2 separate regions of the Homo sapiens genome follow, and region 1 is linked to region 2. The links come from fine-mapping of genetic effects on plasma protein levels. A gene starts in region 2. The other region holds a variant in brackets. All regions are shown on one strand. Distances are between the middles of the regions.

Region 1 (11,914 bases), 13 kb after region 2:
ATTATTACTACTTGAAGCTGCATTTGCATTCCAAAGGAAGGGTCTTAAGTTATGGGTTTGTGAGGATTGATGTAATTGTTGTCTCCCCTGTCCAGGGGATCCCCAGGCCTCAGTTCCCAAACCTTACCTGAATATCCAAGACCCTAGCTCACAGGGTTCCCCTTTGCCAGGACCTTGTTGTCCCTCAGAGATGGACACAACAGAGACATCGGGCCCTGGAAACCATCCAGAACGCTGTGGAGTGCCGAGCCCTGAGTGAGTACAGCACCCTCCACCGTTTTCTCGCGTACTTTGCCCATTGCCCAGGAACTCCCTCGGGTCCTGACCCATCCGACCCTATCTCTCCCAACGTCCAGATGCGAATCCTTCCTGGAACACCTCCAACGTGCCCTTCGCAGTCGCTTCCGCCTGCGGCTATTGGGGGTACGCCAGGCACAGCCGCTCTGCGAGGAGCTCTGCCAGGCCTGGTAGGAGACGCGGGGGCAAGGGGCGTGGGTTGTGACTTGGGCGGGGAAGAGGGCGGAGCCTGCAGTTTGCTTGGCCTTCTGTGTAAAGGGGAGTGGCCTCCAACAGGGCCAAGGTTTAAGAGATGCAGCTTAATGTTTAGAGCCCAGGTAGATAGGGGCGAGGCATGAGAAGCCCCCAGCTTTTAAGATACCTGCCATATGGCAATGTGGCTTTTCATAGCCCTGCGATTTCTTTTCTTTTCTTTCTTTCTTTTTTTTTTTGAGATGGAGTCTCACTGTGTCACCTAGGCTGGAGTGCAGTGGTGCAATCTCGGCTCACTGCAACCTCCACTTCCCGGGTTCAAGCGATTCTCCTGCCTCACCCTCCTGAGTAGCTGTGGTTACAGGCGCACACCACCATGCCCGGCTAATTTTTGTATTTTTAGTAGAGACGAGGTTTCACTATGTTGGTCAGGCTGGTCTCAGACTCCTGACCTCGTGATCCGCCCGCCTCGGCCTCCCAAAGTGCTGGGATTACAGGCGTGAGCCACCGTGCCCGGCCTTTTTTTCTTTTTTTTTTTTTTGAGATGGAGTTTTGCTCTTGTCGCCCAGGCTGGAGTGCAGTGACACGATCTCAGCTCACTGCAACCTCAGCCTCCTGGGTTCAAGTGATTCTCCCGCCTCAGCATCCCTAGTAGCTGAGATTACATGCTTCCGCCACCACGCCCGGCTAAATTTTGTATTTTTAGTAGAGACGGTGTTTCACCGTGTTGGCCAAGCTGGTCTCAAACTCCTGACCTAGGTGGTCCGCCTGCCTTGGCCTCTCGAAGTGCTGGGATTACAGGGGTGAGCCACCATGCCCAGCCAGGCCCTGAGATTTCTTAAGGAGTGAGTCCTCTTGATTGAAAAGATAAGGTAAAAGGGTGGGTGCCTGTAATCTCAGTCGTTTGAGAGGTCAAGGCAGGAGGATTGGTTGAGGCCAGGAGTTCAAGATCAGCCTGGGGAACATGGCAAGACCCAGTCTCAACAAAAAATTTAAAAATTAATTAGACATGGGCCGGACGTAGTGGCTCATGCTTGTAATCCCAGCACTTTGGGAGGCCAAGGTGGGCAGATCCCCTGAGGTCAGGAGTTTGAGACAAGCTTGGCCAACGTGGTGAAACACCGTCTCTACTAAAAACACAAAAATGAGCCAGGCGTGGTGGTGGGCGCCTGTAATCCCAGCTACTCGGGAGGCTGAGGCAGGAGAATTGTTTGAACCTGGGAGGCAGAGGTTGCAGGAAGCAGAGATTGGGCCACTGCACTCCAGCCTGGGTAACAGAGCAGGACTCCATCTCAAAAAAAAAAAAAAAAAAAATTAATCGGACATGATGGTGCGCACCTATAGTCCCAGGTACTTGAGACACTGAGGTGGAAGGATTGCTCCAGCTTGGGAGGTCAAAGCTGCCATAAGCCATGCTTACGCCACTGCACTCCAGCTTGAGTCACAGAGCAAGACCCTGACTCAAAAATAAATAAAAGGAAAACGAAAGAGTGGGAAAATATGAGGGACTGGCCTGTAACTAATGGTCTGAGGTCTGTAGGGACAAGGCCAGTTGTGACGTGGCCCAGAGTATGGAAAGATCTGATAGAATATGGGGCAGGGTGAAATCTGGAGAGATGGGGTTAGTTAGCAGGGGAGTGGTTCTAAAAGGCGGGGCCTGGATCCGAGGTGGGGGCATATAGTGAACACAGTCTAGAAGAGCCAGAATCGCGCTGGAATGTAACTACAAAGGCTTTACCCACCTCTCCACTCGCCATCTCCAGGTTCGCCAACTGCGAAGATGATATCACCTGCGGCCCGACTTGGCTCCCACTCTCAGAAAAAAGGGGCTGTGAGCCCAGCTGCCTTACCTATGGACAGGTGAGCGTGGGGCAGAAGGTGAAGGGAAGAGACTGAGATCCTCCCCACCAAGTTATTTATTTATTTATTTATTTATTTCTGAGACGGAGTTTCATTCTTGTCACCCAGGCTGGAGTGCAGTGGCGCGATCTCAGCTCGATGCAACCTCCGCCTCCGGGGTTCAAGTGATTCTCCTGCCGCAACCTCCCGAATAGCTGGGATTTCAGGCGCATGCCACCATGCCCAGCTAATTTTTGTATTTTTAGTAGAGTCAGCGTTTCACCATGTTGGCCAGGCTGGTTTCGAACTCCTGACCTCAGGTGATCCGCCCACCTCGGCCTCCCAAAGTGTTGGGATTACAGGTGTGAGCCACCGCCCCCGGCCCCCACCAAGTTCTTTCTTACCGTGTCTAGACCCCAGAGACCGGATTGGTACTCCCCAGGTCCCTGCTCCCACCCTTCCCTAGCCCAACCTCCTACTGGGTTGTGCCCTTTGACCCCAAAAGCTCTCGAAGTCCAGATTTGCCCTTCCCAAGAAACCATTCCTGCTCTGGGTCCATCCACATTTTACCCTGGAGGACCCAGAAGCCCAGTCACTCTCTACAAAACCCCAGCCTTGATACAGACCTCTCTGCGCGCCCCCCAACTGCCCCAACCCTGATTCATCCCGCTAGGGCCCAGTAAGAACATTCACCCTCCCCAAGGACCTGCCCCCACTCACGTTCCGCACATAGACTCCCAGGCCGCACGCTCCGGCTCTGACCCCAATCCCTAAGGAATTTACACATTTTTCCCTTCCCGAGGCCACGCCCCCCACGTCTCTGGACTCCGCCCACTAGGGCCTTAACTCCACTTTTTCCTAGACCTTCGCAGACGGGACGGACCTTTGTCGCTCGGCTCTGGGCCACGCCCTACCGGTGGCTGCTCCTGGAGCCCGTCACTGCTTCAACATCTCCATCTCCGCGGTACCTCGTCCCAGACCAGGACGACGGGGCCGGGAAGCTCCCTCCCGGCGTTCCCGCAGCCCTCGCACCTCCATCCTGGACGCTGCGGGCAGCGGGAGTGGCAGTGGAAGCGGCAGCGGCCCCTAGCGGACGCGTGGCCCTGAGTTGGGGGAGCGACCCTTCCCCCAGCCCCGCCCCTCAGGACACCCAGAACCCCACCCCTCGTCCTCTCGGCCTTCTGTAATAGTTTTGAGATGTCTGTCCCTCCTCCCTGGAGCTCCAGAGACCCACCCCTCTCCAGGTTATCCCAGAAATGACCCAACTCTCTCACTTTTCCCTCTCCCCTTTGAATAAAGTCGCCAGCTAGAGCACGTGACGAGTGTGGCTGCTTCTTGGGGAAATAAGTCGGAAGGAGAATTGCCAGAAAGTAACGGATGTCTCACGTCTAATCCTCAGACCCTAGAAGTAGTGACTGACTCATACTAGAGTGTAAATGATAGATAGCCTGTGCCCTAGAGCAGTCAACATAACTGGGAATACCCAGTTGTTGGAAATGGAGAGGGGGTCAGAACAGGGGCTGACAAGGGCAGGAGGGGTTCCTTCCCACTGTGTGCCACCAGGGCTGCCAAGAAGCTGCCTAACTTGTATAGGCCTCAAGACACACTTCAAGGCCAGGTGCAGAGGCTCATGCCTGTAATCCCAGCAATTTGAGAGGCTGAGGTGGTTGGATTGCTTGAGCCCAGGAGTTCAAGACCAGGCTTCGCAATACGGTGAGAACCTGTCTCCACAAAAAAAAAAAGAGAGAGAGAGAAAGGAAGAAAAAAGAAAAAGAAAAAGAATATTTTTAATTGGCCCAGTGTAGTGACCCGTGCCTGTATTCCTACCTGCTCAGCAGGCTGAGGCAGGAGGATCGCTTGAGCTCAGTTCAGGGCTGCAGTGAGCCACGATCACACCACTGTACTCTAGTCTGGGTGACACAGTGAGAGCCTCTCTCTCAAAAAAAATAATAATAATAAGACATGCAGACACAGAATACCAAGCTGGCCCTGGTAGTATGTGCTGTACTCCCAACTACTTGAGAGGCTGAGGTAAGAAGATCACTCGATCCCAGAACATTGAGGCTACAGTAAGCTATAATCCTGCCACTACACTCCAGCCTGGGCAAAAGCCAGATCCCAGCTTTTTATTTATTTATTTATTTTGAGACTGAGTTTCGTTCTTGTTGCCCAGGTTGGAGTGCAATAGCAGGATCTCAGCTCACTGCAACCTCCTCCTCCCGGGTTCCAGTGATTCTCCTGCCTCAGCCTCCCTAGTAGCTGGGATTACAGGCACCTGCCACCAAGCCCAGCTAATTTTTTGTATTTTTAGTAGAGATAGGGTTTCACCATGTTGGCCAGGCTGGTCTCAAACTCTTCACTTCAGGGGATCCACCCACCTTGGCCTCCCAAAGTACTAAGATTACATGTGTGAGCCACCACGCCTGGCGTTTTTTTTGTTTGTTTGTTTGTTTTTTTGAGACAGAGTCTAGCTTTGTCTCCCAGGCTGAATTGTAGTGGTGCAATCTTGGCTTACTGCAACCTCAGCCTCCTGGGTTCAAGTGCTTCTCGTGCCTCAGCCTCCAGAGTAGCTGGGATTGCAGGCACACACCACCACATCTGGATAATTTTTGTATTTTTAGTAGAGATGGGGTTTCACCATGTTGGCGAAACCTCAGGTGATCCACCTGCCTCGGCCTCCCAAAGTGCTGGGATTACAGACACAAGTCACCATTCCTGCCCAAGACCCCATATTATACATGTACAGACTACAGAATTTGGTGGGAATGACCCCGTGTAGCGTCCACCTGTGTTCACAACCCAGCTCTACCACTTACTTATGCTGTAACTTCGGTTTCACACGTTGCCCAGATTGAGCCTCAGTTTCTTCATCTTTAAAATGGGAATGTGGGCCAGGCACGGTGTCTCATGCCTGTAATCCCAGCACTTTGGGAGGCCGAGGCAGGTGGTTCATTCACTTGAGGCCAGGAGTTCGAGACCAGCCTGGCCAACATGGCGAAACTCCGTCTCTACCAAAAGTACAAAAATTAGCCAGGCAGCCGGGTGCGATGGCTCATGCCTGTAATCCCAGCACTTTGGGAGGCCAAGGCGGGCAGATCACGAGATCAAGAGTTCAAGACCAGCATGACCAACATGGAGAAACCCCATCTCTACTAAAAAATACAAAAATTAGCCAGGCATGGTGGGGCGCACCTGTAATCCCAGCTACTCAGGAGGCTGAGGCAGAAGAATCGCTTGAACCTGGGAGGTGGAGGTTGCAGTGAGCAGAGAACGTGCCATTGCATTCCAGCCTGGGTGACAGAGCAAGGATCTGTCTCAAAAAAAAAAAAAAAAAAATTAGCCAGCTGTGGTGGCACATGCCTATAATCCCAGTTTCTTGGGAGGCTGCGGTAGGATAATCACTCGAACCCAGGAGGTGGAGGTTGTGGTGACCTGAGACAGTACCACTGCACTCCAGCCTGGGTAACAGGGTGAGACCTTGTCTCAAAAAGAAAAATTACAATAAAATAAATAAAATAAAACGGAAATGCATTCCTTTCACAGGATTGAGAAAGGAGAATTCAGTGAGTTAGTGCAAGTTTTTCTGCTTATCTAACACTGCATACCAAACAATTCCAATATAGTGATGAAAAAAAGGTCACTAGGCTGGGCGTGGTGGCTCATGCCTGTAAGCCCAGCACTTTGGGAGTCCAAGGCGGGCGGATCGCAAGGCCAGGATATCGAGACCATCCTGGCTGACATGGTGAAACCCCGTCTCTACTAAAAATACAAAAAATTAGTCGGGCATTGTGGCAGGCACCCGTAGTCCCAGCTACTTGGGAGGCTGAGGCAGGAGAATGGCATGAACCTGGGAGGCAGAGGTTTTAGTCAGCTGAGATCACACTACTGCACTCCAGCCTGGGCGACAAAGCAAGACTCCATCTCAGAAAAAAAAGTCATTATCGGCTGAGTGCAGTGGCTCATGCCTGTAAGCCCAGCACGTTGGGAGGCCGAGGCGGGCAGATCACCTGAGGTCAGGGGTTCAAGACCAGCCTGGCCAACATGGTGAAACCCTGTCTCTACTAAAAATAAAAAATTAGCTGGGCATGGTGGTGCGTGCCTGTAATCCCAGCTACTCAGGAGGCTGAGGCTGGAGAATCACTTGAACCCATAAGGCAGAGGTTGCAGTGAGCCGAGATCATGCCACTGCGCCCCAACCTGGGTAACAGAGCCAGACTCCGTCTCAAAAAACAAAACAAAAAAAAAGAAACAACAACCAGCACTTTAGGAGGCCGAGGCAGGTGGATCACGAGGTCAGGAGTTCGAGACCAGCCTAACCAACATGGTGAAACTCCATCTATACTAAAAATACAGAAAATTAGCCGGGTGTGGTGGCGCATGCCTGTAATCCCAGCTACTCAGGAGGCTGAGGCAGGATAATTGCTTGAACCCAGGAAGCAGAGGTTTCAGTGAGCCGAGATCACGCCATTACACTCCAGCCTGGGTGACAGAGCGAGACTCCATCTCAAAAAAAAAAAAAAAAGTTACTATCTTTCATGGTTCTGGGGTTTGACTTGGTTCAGCTTGGCAGTTCTTCCTGAAGATCTGTCATATACTTGCAGACACAGTGGCTGGGGCTGGAATCACGTTGAAGGCTTCCTTGCTCACATATCTGGTAGTTGGTGTTGGCTGTTGCCTTGAACTTCTGCTGGGGCTGTTGGCCAGAATATCTGCACATGGCCTCTCTGTGGCTTGGGCTTCCTCTCAACATGGCAGCTACGGTCTAAGGGAAATATCCCAAGAGAGCAAGCCAGGTGGGATCTGTTTCAGTTCTGATGACTTAACCTTGGAACTCACACAGTGTGACATCTCTCACTTTTTATTCACTACAGTGAGTCACTGAAGCCAGCTCATATTCAAGGAGAGGCATCATAGACTCCACCTCCAATGGGGGGGATGTCAAATAAAATGCTTAGAAAGTGTGGCACACAATTATCACTCAATGAATGTAGACCGTCTATTATGATTGCTTCTGGTGGATGATGTTACATACTGGGTTACTGATGTTATAGACTGTGTTATTGTGACAAGGAGGAGGAACAAGCATTCAAGGAAGTAAAGCAAGTCTTTAAAGGATCTCCAGTCAGATAATCAAGCCATGGAGGACATTCCAAGTGAAAGGCCTGGAGATTTCATATTCTGGGAACTCTGAGCTGACCAGGAAGCCTGGGATAGACCATGGGAGATGGGATCTGGTCCTGGAAGACACTGGATGCCAGGCAGAGACACTTGAACCTGAGGATAGAGTGTGATGTACCAGGAGCTGTGGCTCACACCTGTAATTCTAGCACTTTAGGAGGC[C/T]GAGGCAGATGAATTCTTTGAGGTCAGGAGTTCCAGACCAGCCTGGGCAACAGGGCAAAACCCCATCTCTACTAAAAATTAAAAAAATTAGCTGGGCATGGTGGCACACACCTGTAGTCCCAGCTACTTGGGAGGCTGAAGGTGGGAGGATTACTTGAGCCAGGAGGTGGAGGTTGCAGTGAGCCATCATCTGCCCTCCAGCTGAGGCAACAGATGGAGACCGTGTCTCAGAAAAAAAAAAAAAAGAGAGAGACAGGAGGGTGTGATGCAAGGTTTGGCAGTTCGGGCTACAGTCTCAGCTACTTGGGAGGCTGAGGTGACTGTATTGCTTGAGGCCAGGAGATTGGGAATAGCATGGGCACCATAGCCAGACCTCATCTCCAAAATAAAAAAAAAAAAAAAAGTTAGGCTGGACAAAATTAGGTAGGACAGCTCACGCCTGAAATCCCAGCACTTTGGAAGGCTGAAGCAGGAGAACTGCTTGAAGCCAGGAGTTCAAAATCAGCCTGGGCAACATAGTAAGACCTCATCTCTACCAAAAAAAACAAAAACCAAAAAAAATTAGCGAGGTGCAATGGTTTGTGCCTGTAGTCCCACATACTCAGGACCTCATTTAGAAAAGGAAACATGTGAAAGCCATAGGTTTTTTGTTTTTGTTTTTTGAGACGGAGTCTCGCTCTTGTCACCCAGGCTGGAGTGCAGTGTGGCACGATCTCGGCTTACTGCAACCTCTGCCTCCCAGGTTCAAGCTATTCTCCTGCCTCAGCCTCCTTACTAGCTGGGATTACAGGTGCCTGCCACTATGCCTGACTAATTTTTGTACTTTTAGTAGAGACGGGGTTTCACCATGTTGGCCAGGCTGGTCTTGAATTCCTGACCTCAGGTGATCCACCTGCCTTGGCCTACCAAAGTGCTGGAATAACAGTCATGAGCCACCGTGCCCAGCCTTGTTTTTGTTTTTTTAAAACAGGGTCTCACTCTGTTGTTCAGGCTCTTAAGTGCAGTGGTGCAATCTCGGCTCACTGCAGCCTCAACCTCCCAGGCTCAAGTGATCCTCCCACCTTACCTCCCCAAGTATCTGGGACTACAGGCGCTCACCACCACGCCCAGCTGATTTTTGTATTTTTTAGTAGAGACAGCGGTTTCACTATGTTGGCCAGGCTGGTCTTTAACTCCTGACCTCGTGATCCGCCACCTTAGCCTCCCAAAGTGCTGGGATTATAGGCATGAGCCACTGTGCCTGGCTGAGACCCTTTTTTTTTTTTTTTTTTTTTGAGATGGAGTCTTGCTCTTTAGCCCAGGCTGGAGTGCAGTGGCGCTATTCTCGGCTCACTGCAAGCTCCGCCTCCCAGGTTCACGCCATTCTCCTGCCTCAGTCTCCCGAGTAGCTGGGACTACAGGTGCCCGCCACCACACTGGCTAATTTTTTGTGTTTTTAGTAGAGATGGGGTTTCACCATGTTAGCCAGGATGGTCTCAATCTCCTGACCTCGTGATCCGCCCACCTTAGCCTCCCAAAGTGCTGGGATTACAGGTGTGAGCCACCCGGCCTTTTTTTTTTTTTTTTTTTTTTTTTGAGACGAAGTCTCACTCTTGTCCCCCAGGCTGGAGTGCAAAGGCGCAATCTCGGCTCACTACAACCTCCACCTCCCGGGTTCAGGCAATTCTCCTGCCTCAACCCCTGGAGTAGCTGGGATTACAGGTGCCTGCCACCAGGCCTGGCTAATTTTTGTATTTTTAGTAGAGATGGGGTTTTACCATGTTGGCCAGGCTGGTCTAGAACTCCTGGCCTCAGGTGATCCACCCGCCTTGGCCTCCCAAAGTGCTGGGATTACAGGCGTGAGCCACCGCACCCAGCCAACTCTGTTTCTTAAAAAAAACCTCAAAAACATGACACTCGGGATCTTCAGCAGGCCAGTGTGGAACCCTGGACTCTTTCCAACTCCCGTGTGAGCTTCACGCTGCTGGGACGGGGACCCAGCACTGAGTTCTCACAAATTCAAAGGCTGTTGTTAGAAGTAACATTTGCAGGCCGGGCGCGGTGGCTCATGCCTGTAATCCCAGCACTTTGGGAGGCTGAGGCGGGTGGATAACCTGAGGTCAGGAGTTCAAGACCAGCCTGGCCAACTTGGTGAAACTTCGTCTGTACTAAAAATACAAAAATTAGCAGGGTGTGGTGGTAGGTTCCTATAATCCCAGCTACTCGGGAGCTGAGGCAGGAGAATTGCTTGAACCCAGGAGGCAGAGGATGCAGTGAGCTGAGATCGCACCACTGCACTCCAGCCTGGGTGACAGAGTGAGGCTCTATTCCAGAAAAAAAAAAAAAAGAAGTAACATTTGCAGGCTGCACATGGTGGCTGGTGGCTTTTACTTATAATCCTAGCACTTGGGGAGGCCAAGGCAGGAGACCCCTTGAGCTCAGGACTTCAAGACCCACCCCCTGGTGTCTACAAAAAGTCAAAGAAGGCGGGGCACAGTGGCTCACGCCTGTAATCCCAGCATTTTGGGAGGCCAAGGCGGGCAGATCACGACGTCAGGAGATTGAGACCATCCTGGCTAACATGGGGAAACCCCTTCTTTATTAAAAATACAAAAAATTAGCCAGGCATGGTGGCATGTGACTGTAGTCCCAGCTACTTGGGAGGCTGAGGCAGAAGAATTTCTTGAACCCGGGAGGCGGAGGTTGCAGTGAGCCAAGATCACACCACTGTACTGCAGCCTGGGAGACAAAGCAAGATTCCATCTCAAAAAAAAAGAGAAAAACAAAATTAGCTGGGCGGGGTGGTCGGTGCCTGTAATCCCAGCTACTCAGGAGTCTAAGGCAGGAGAATCGCTTGAACCAGGGAGCCAATGGTTGCAGTGAGCCGAGATTGGGCCATTGCACTCTAGCCTGGGCGATAGAGCAAGACTCAGTCTCAAAAAAAAAAAAAAAAAAAAGAAATACAAAATGAGCCGGATGTGCTCACTTGAACCCATGTGGCGGAGGTTGCAGTGAGCCGAGATGCCACTGCAACACAGCCGGAGCAAGAGTGAGTCTCCATCTCAAAAGAAAAAGAAAAATAAGCTTTTAAGTCAAATAACAAAATAATAACAACAAGACGAGGGTTGGATAGAGGGTGTCTCTTGGGTGGAGACCACACCTCCTCCCGAATGCCTACTCTCACTGCCCTCTTCTTGGGCCCTTTTTTTTTTTTTTTTTTTGAGACGGAGTCTTGCTCTGTCACCAGGCTGGAGTGCAGTGGCATGATCTTGGCTCACTGAAACCTTCGCCTCCCATGTTTAAGTGATTCTCCTGCCTCAGCCTCCAGAGTAGCTGGGACTACAGGCACCCACCACCACACCCAGCTAATTTTTGTATTTTTGGTAGAGATGAGGTTTCACCATGTTGGCCAGGATAGTCTCCATCTCTTGACCTCGTGATCTGCCCACCTCGGCCTCCCAAAGCGCTGGGATTACAGGCGTGAGCCACGGCGCCTGGCCTCTCGGGCCTTCTTGAAGCCAGGTCTCCCATTTCTAGGCCTCAACACGTGCCCAATGCCTGGAACCCCCTCCATCCTCCAGTCACTTATTCCACCGCATTCACCCCGCAGACCTCTGCCAGTCAGTTCCTCAGGCTCTGAGACCCCCAGATCAGAGCTGGGTCCCCCATCATGCATTCCTGGGCACTCTAGCCTCCACTGTCAAAGGACAGTTCTGGGATTCTGGCTGGCTGGTGCAGTGCTGGCTTCTGCGTCCTACAAAGAATTTGCGTGGAGTGGAGAAATGCTCTGTTATGGGTTGAATGGGTCTCCTCCAATTCATATGTTCAAGTCCTAACCCCCAGCATGTCAAAACGTGACTGTGTTTGGAAAGAGCGTGTTTAAAGGGGTAATTAAAGTAAAATGAGGTCATATTTGTGAGCTCTAATTCAATGACAATAAGAAATTAGGACACTTGGCCGGGCACTGTGTCTCATGCCTGTAATCTCAACAATTTAACACTTTGGGAGGCTATGGTGGGAGGATCCTTTGGGCCCGGAGTTTGAGAGCAAACTGGGCAACATAGCAAGACCCCCATCTCTATAAAAAAAATTTTTTTTCTTTGAGACGGAGTCTCACTCTGTTGCCCAGGTTGGAGCGCAATGGCACGATCTTGGCTCACTGCAACCTCCACCTCCCAGGTTCAAGCATTTCTGCCTCAGCCTCCTGAGTAGCTGGGATTACAGGCATCTGCCACCATGTCCAGCTAATTTTTGTATTTTTAGTAGA
Region 2 (5,299 bases):
AAGCGCGCGGGGCGGAGGCTGCAGCCGCCGCAGCGGGCAGGGGAGGGCAGGGAAGGGGAGGGCCCTGCGGCTGCAGCCGGCCGGGAGGGGGCGCTGCTGCGTGCCGGCGAGCCAGGCCCCGCCCGCGCACTCGCCTGGCGCCCCCACCCCGGCGGGAGAAGGGGCGGCCAGCCCCCGCCACGTCTCTCCCCAGGCTCACCTGCTGCTTTTCCGGGGCAGGGGCAAATCCTTCTGGAAGGCAAAGGGGCAAAACGATGAAGGTCAGCGTGGACCTGCCGTTGCTGCCCACAAGCATTATCAACTCCCTGGAGGAGCAGAAGCAGGGTAAGACAGGCCCCTCTTCAGCACTGTCACTTTCACCCTTGGCCATGCACTGCGGGCCAAGTTTCTTGGGGGAGAGGATCCCTGGGTGATTCCTCTCCTGACCCTCAGAGACCAACAGAGGCCCACGTACACAGGCGGGGCGCCATATAAAGGCAAGTGAGTTGGCATATCAGCGTGTGTTTGTGCAAATGAAATAGGAATCATTATTTGAAAAATATGTCTTGAGCACCTACTGTATGCTGACCCAATCCTAGGCACTAGGGACACAGTAGTGAATAAATTACAAGTCCGGTGTGGTGGTGTGCACCTCTAGTCCCAGCTACTTGGGAGGTTGAGGCAGGAGAATCGCTTGAGTCCAAGGAAACACCAGCGTGGGCAACACAGCAAGACTCTCTGTCTCAAGGAGAAAAAAAAAAAAGTTTCTGGCCTTTTGGGACTAGTATTTATAGGGTAAAGGGGACATTAAACAAGATTAGTGTAGAAGTGAACGAAATCATTTTAGACAATAATTAGTCTTATGAATAAATTAAACAGGGTGATGTGATGGACAATGGCTAGGATGGAGACACATTGTCAGACAGGGCTGCTCTGTGGAGGTGACTTTTAAGCTGGTTGCTGAAAGATAAGAGCCAGCCATGGGAGGATCTGTGGAGAGAGCATTCCAGGTGGAGGGAACTGCAAGGGCAAAGGCCTGGAGGCGGGAATAAGCTTAGCGTACTCAATGAATGAATGAAAGGTTGAATGAATGAAAGGTTGAAAGAATGAATGACTCATCTACACCTCAGCAGATCTATCTGACTCCCAGCTAGAGTCATAGAGTTGGGGTAGGGGGTGGGGGGTAGGTAAGTAGAGTGACTCACAACTGAGATTTAAAATGGGAACCACGGAGGCTGAGGTGGGAGAATCTCTTGAGCTCAGGAGGTCGAGGTTATAGTGAACTATGATTGCACCACTGCTGGAGTAAGACACCCTCTCAATTAACAATAAATAAATAAATAATAAAAAGTTTAAAAAATAAAAAAATAAAAATGGAAATTCAGGTGATGGCCGCATAGTCATTTTTTATAATGACAATAATAATAATTAGTGAGTATTAACTTTATGTGTCTGCATTTGAAGAAGGTCACCTTCCATTTGTCAAGCTCTTAGGAAGTCACTGTAGGGATCAGGAGATATGGGGTCTTGGCTTTTTTCTGAGGAAAGGAATGGGGTACAAGGGGCAACACCTGCCAGCCAGTTTTCTATCCACAGGGTGAGGTGGAAGGAAGGAAACTGAGTGGGGCTGCAGGTGGAAAGATTTGGGGGAGAGTTTCAAAAGGCCTTTGGAGGGGACTCCAACAAAAGGAAAATGAGGGATGTCCTAGACATTTCTAGGATCTCTAAAAGCAAAAAGCCTAGGTTCAAATCTCAATTCTGCTTTTTATGACCTTGGCAAATGACCTTCCAATAGTCCCGTGTCTCCTTGAGGATCTTAGGAGTTGATGCAGATGCCTAGCCCCTTAGCATGGTGCCTAGCACATAGCAAGTGCTCAATAAATACTAAGTCTGGAGAACAGGCGTTATTAAGGAGGGACATGCTGCATGACAGAGGATGGGCCACAGCGTCCTCCCACCCCGTTGTACAACGGACAAACATATAGGCGGGGCCAAAGGGCAGCCCTGCCCTCCCGAGCCACGGGTGACCGATAATCCAAACCAGGTTTTCCCTCTGTCTTTGCATGACCGGAGTGAATGAGGACCAGTCGACCTGGCTGCGTGTCTGCAATGGCCCAAGCGAAATCAAGACCTGGATTTTCTGGCCACAGAGCCCAGGGTGTCCAGATCCGGGTAACCGGCCTTGGAGGGTAAGCCCCTGGAGGGCTTTTAAGCACCACCCGAAGAAGACCTGGAACCCAGCCCCACCCGCTAGCGCCCCCAAACATTCTAGGGACGAAGAAAGGGTCAAACTGGAGCGGCGGAAGTTCGGGTCTTTGGCGTCAGTGTAAACAGACGCCACCTCCAATCTCAGCTGCAGAGCCGCTCGGCCAAGTGGATTCCGCTTCTCCCGCACAGGATTAATAGTTGACACTGCAGACAGGGCATTCGAACTCAGGATGCTGTCTACATATAAGATCCCAGGGCGTGGTGGCTCACGCCTGTAATTCCAGCGCTTTGGGAGGCCGAGGCGGGTGGATCACCTGAGGTCAGAAGTTCAAGACCAGGCTGGCCAACATGGTGAAACCCACTCTCTACTAAAAATACAAAACTAGCCGGGCATGTTGGCATGAGCCTGTAATCCCAGCTACTAGCGAGGCTGAGGCAGAAGAATCTCTTAAACCCGGGAGGCGGAGGTTGCAGTGAGCCGAGATTGCGTCACTGCACTCCAGCCTGGGCAACAGAGCGAGACTCCGTTTCAAAAAAAAAAAAAAAAAAAAGAGCCTAGCTGCACACAGGGGACCCTCGGGCGCTCAGCAGTGATGCGACAGTTCCTAAGAGGATGCACCAACGTATGTGGGTGTATCCAGGCAGCGAAGTGGTTAATCCCGCCAGAAGGGAAGCGGTGGGGACAGGACTCCGACAGGGATCGCCGGACCCAGAGCAAGCCTGGGGTTGAGTGGGTGGGTGGGTGAGTGGAAGCATTCCGCGTTGGGGGCGGTGTCTCGAGCGGGAGTTTAAAGTCCCGCGTGGCGCTGAGCCAATGAGAGTTGACGCCGGCCTGGAGGGCGGGGACACACCGTGCAGGCCCCGCCTCTTTCCTCCCTTTTCTCAGAAACCCGACGGCGCGGACCCAACCTGGCTGCTGCAGTACTTGCTCTAACTTTGCCGCAGCTGCCTCCCTTCTCTCGGAACCCACTCTCCTAACCCACCCCCGAGAGGCGGAGAGAATGTGGGAGCACTTCAGAGAGGCCTAGGCTCCGGAGATCGGGCCATCTGGGCTCTGAAAGCAAATTAGTTTTCCAACTCATGTCTGGCTCCGGCGTTACCCAGACGCCTGGAAGGTCCTTCCTGCAGTCTGATCACCATTTTTCCTGCTGCACTGACCAATCAGCTCCCCTTGGCCTTCAACCTCGGGAATGATGGATTAGGGGAGTCTAGAAATGGACGAAGCCCTAGGTGAGGGTTTGAATCCTCTTTTCCCAAGATTCAGGCTGGGGATGGAGCCTGAGTCTGGGCCCATTCTCGGCTTTATCTAAACTCCAGATTACCAAGCCTGGGGCTGAGCCCCAAGGAGGCTCAGAAGGGCCAGACCCCAGGCAGGGCCTTGGGGCACAGATATCATCACCTTCCCCTCTGGGATGTTTGGGACCGGACCTCCGTATTAACCCTGAACTTCCGTACTAACCCCTCAGAAACGCAGCTGAAGACGAGCAGAGGACGCTTCTCGGCTACAGAATCCCTCCCCACCTTGGAGGTAGGAGCTCCTGACACCTGAGTTTGTCCCCGCCTTCCCCACACTCCACAGCGATCCTCAGTGTCCCACTCCGTGCAGTGGACGCACGGCTCCTGCGCCTGCGCAGCCTCGAGACCAGCATCTTCTAAGGCTGCAAGGAGCTAAAAATCGCTCCCGCCCACCCACAAGCTGGGCTGGACTTGAGGATCGCGGTGGGGGGGCGGATGTTGTAGTGGAGGAGGTGGAATGAAGAGTGAGAAAGCTGTCTAGGTGCCTGTCCAATTAGGGCAGTAGGAAGAATCCTGATGGCCAGGCAGGTGCGTGGGGGACGCAGGGCGTCCTATGCCTCGGGAGGGGGCTCCTGGGGTGGTGAGGGGCGAGGTTGCCGCACAAACATGTTTACGCCTCCAGCGGCGCCGATGGCCCCGAGGGGCATGAGCCCTAGGGCAATAACTTTGCTCTGCGCCCCCTCACCCCTAGCCTGGCGAGGCGCCAGGGCGATGACTTCGGCCCCAGCCCCATCCCCCTAGGGCGGGCCAGGCGCCCCTCAGGCGATCCTCGAGGGGGAGCGCTAGGCTGCACCCCTCCGGCAGCTCCCTGGATCGCCGGGCGGCGCCTGAGGGGCGGGGTCCCCAGCGCGGCGGGACGCGCGGCCACAGCGTTCCCCGCGGTTAGCGTCCCGAACCTATGGGTGGGGGCGTCCCGGCTGACCCTAGTGCAAGTTCTCCCGCCTCCTGCCCAGCCCCGCCCCAGGGCGCCGACCCCTTCCTCTCCACCCGGGGCCCAGGCAGCCGCGTACCTGCAGCCTCCGGCGGCGGATGAGGCCCGAATCGTCCATGGCGGCAGCGGCGGCGACTTCGGCCCGGGGAGGGAGGAGGGAGGTAGCGGCGGCGGGAGGAGGGAGGAGGGAGGGAGTGAGAAGCCGCGGGGACCGCGGCGGCGGCGGCGGCGGCGGCTGAGGGGAGGGGTGGCGGGGGCGGGGGCGGAGCGAAGTGGGGCGGGCCCGGCGCCGTCACTGCGTCTGGGCGCCCGAGCCCGGGCTCAGCCACCGCTGCCCGCGCTGGCGGGGGGAAGGGGCGGGCGGGGGGGCGGAGCCTCCTGGTGCCCCCATGGGAGCCAAGCTGCCGAGAGACCACTATAAAAAGAGACACCCCAGAGGAGAGATATTCTCAGGGGTAGAACCCTCAGTCAAGAAACACCCCAAAGGAAGCCTTCTCCCTGAGATACATTCCCTCTACATTCATCCCCCAGAGACCCCCTTGGTGAGACACATTCCCAGGGGGAGATAGTTTCCACAGGGACGCCCTGTCCAATCAAGAACTCCCCCAACCCTGAAAATCATTCCTAATAGATATGGTCCCTGAGAGGTGACTTTCCTCTCAAAAGCCATCCCCCTCCCCACGAAAGAGGCATTCCCCGAAGAGAAAGATCCCAGGAGTAACAATTCCCGTGTAAAGGATACCCCCAATCAGAGACCCCTAAAAGCCATATCCTCTGTGGGAAACTGTCCCCACCCACGAGACCTCTACAGCCCCAGGAGAGATCTCATGCTTACAGAGAAACATTTTCACTGAGGAGACCCGTCTTCACAGGAGACGCAACCTC

Alleles and levels. Alleles are on the strand shown, and positions count from the first base shown. The strength of an association depends on the size of the effect and on how common the allele is.
In carriers of allele C in region 1, the plasma level of the protein whose gene starts at base 3,921 in region 2 tends to be higher than with T alone (moderate association).

Evidence for each region. A credible set is the group of variants that fine-mapping cannot tell apart. PIP is the posterior inclusion probability: the model's chance that the variant is causal. The UK Biobank Pharma Proteomics Project read protein levels with antibody pairs (Olink). The fine-mapping took linkage between variants from a reference panel, not from the people measured, so its PIPs are less certain.
Region 1: its variant is the best candidate, but not a certain one, in a credible set for the plasma level of the RTBDN protein (UK Biobank, PIP 0.62).

The regions. Positions count from the first base shown.
Region 1 is chr19:12,817,210-12,829,123 of GRCh38, reverse strand. It overlaps RTBDN (retbindin), which reads left to right. Exons shown (of 6, transcript NM_001270441.2): 3 at 171-255; 4 at 357-467; 5 at 2,253-2,349; 6 at 3,191-3,642. The coding sequence ends at 3,418. It overlaps RTBDN-AS1 (RTBDN antisense RNA 1), which reads right to left and starts at 3,391. Exons shown (of 3, transcript NR_187779.1): 1 at 3,212-3,391; 2 at 2,232-2,339. RefSeq lists a silencer at 440-599, an enhancer at 2,848-3,624 and a cis regulatory region at 3,193-3,993. The variant C/T (reference allele first, on the strand shown) is at 7,669.
Region 2 is chr19:12,833,201-12,838,499 of GRCh38, reverse strand. RTBDN (retbindin) reads left to right here and starts at 3,921. Exons shown (of 6, transcript NM_001270441.2): 1 at 3,921-4,011. RefSeq lists silencers at 5-184, 189-372 and enhancers at 3,434-3,963, 5,159-5,299.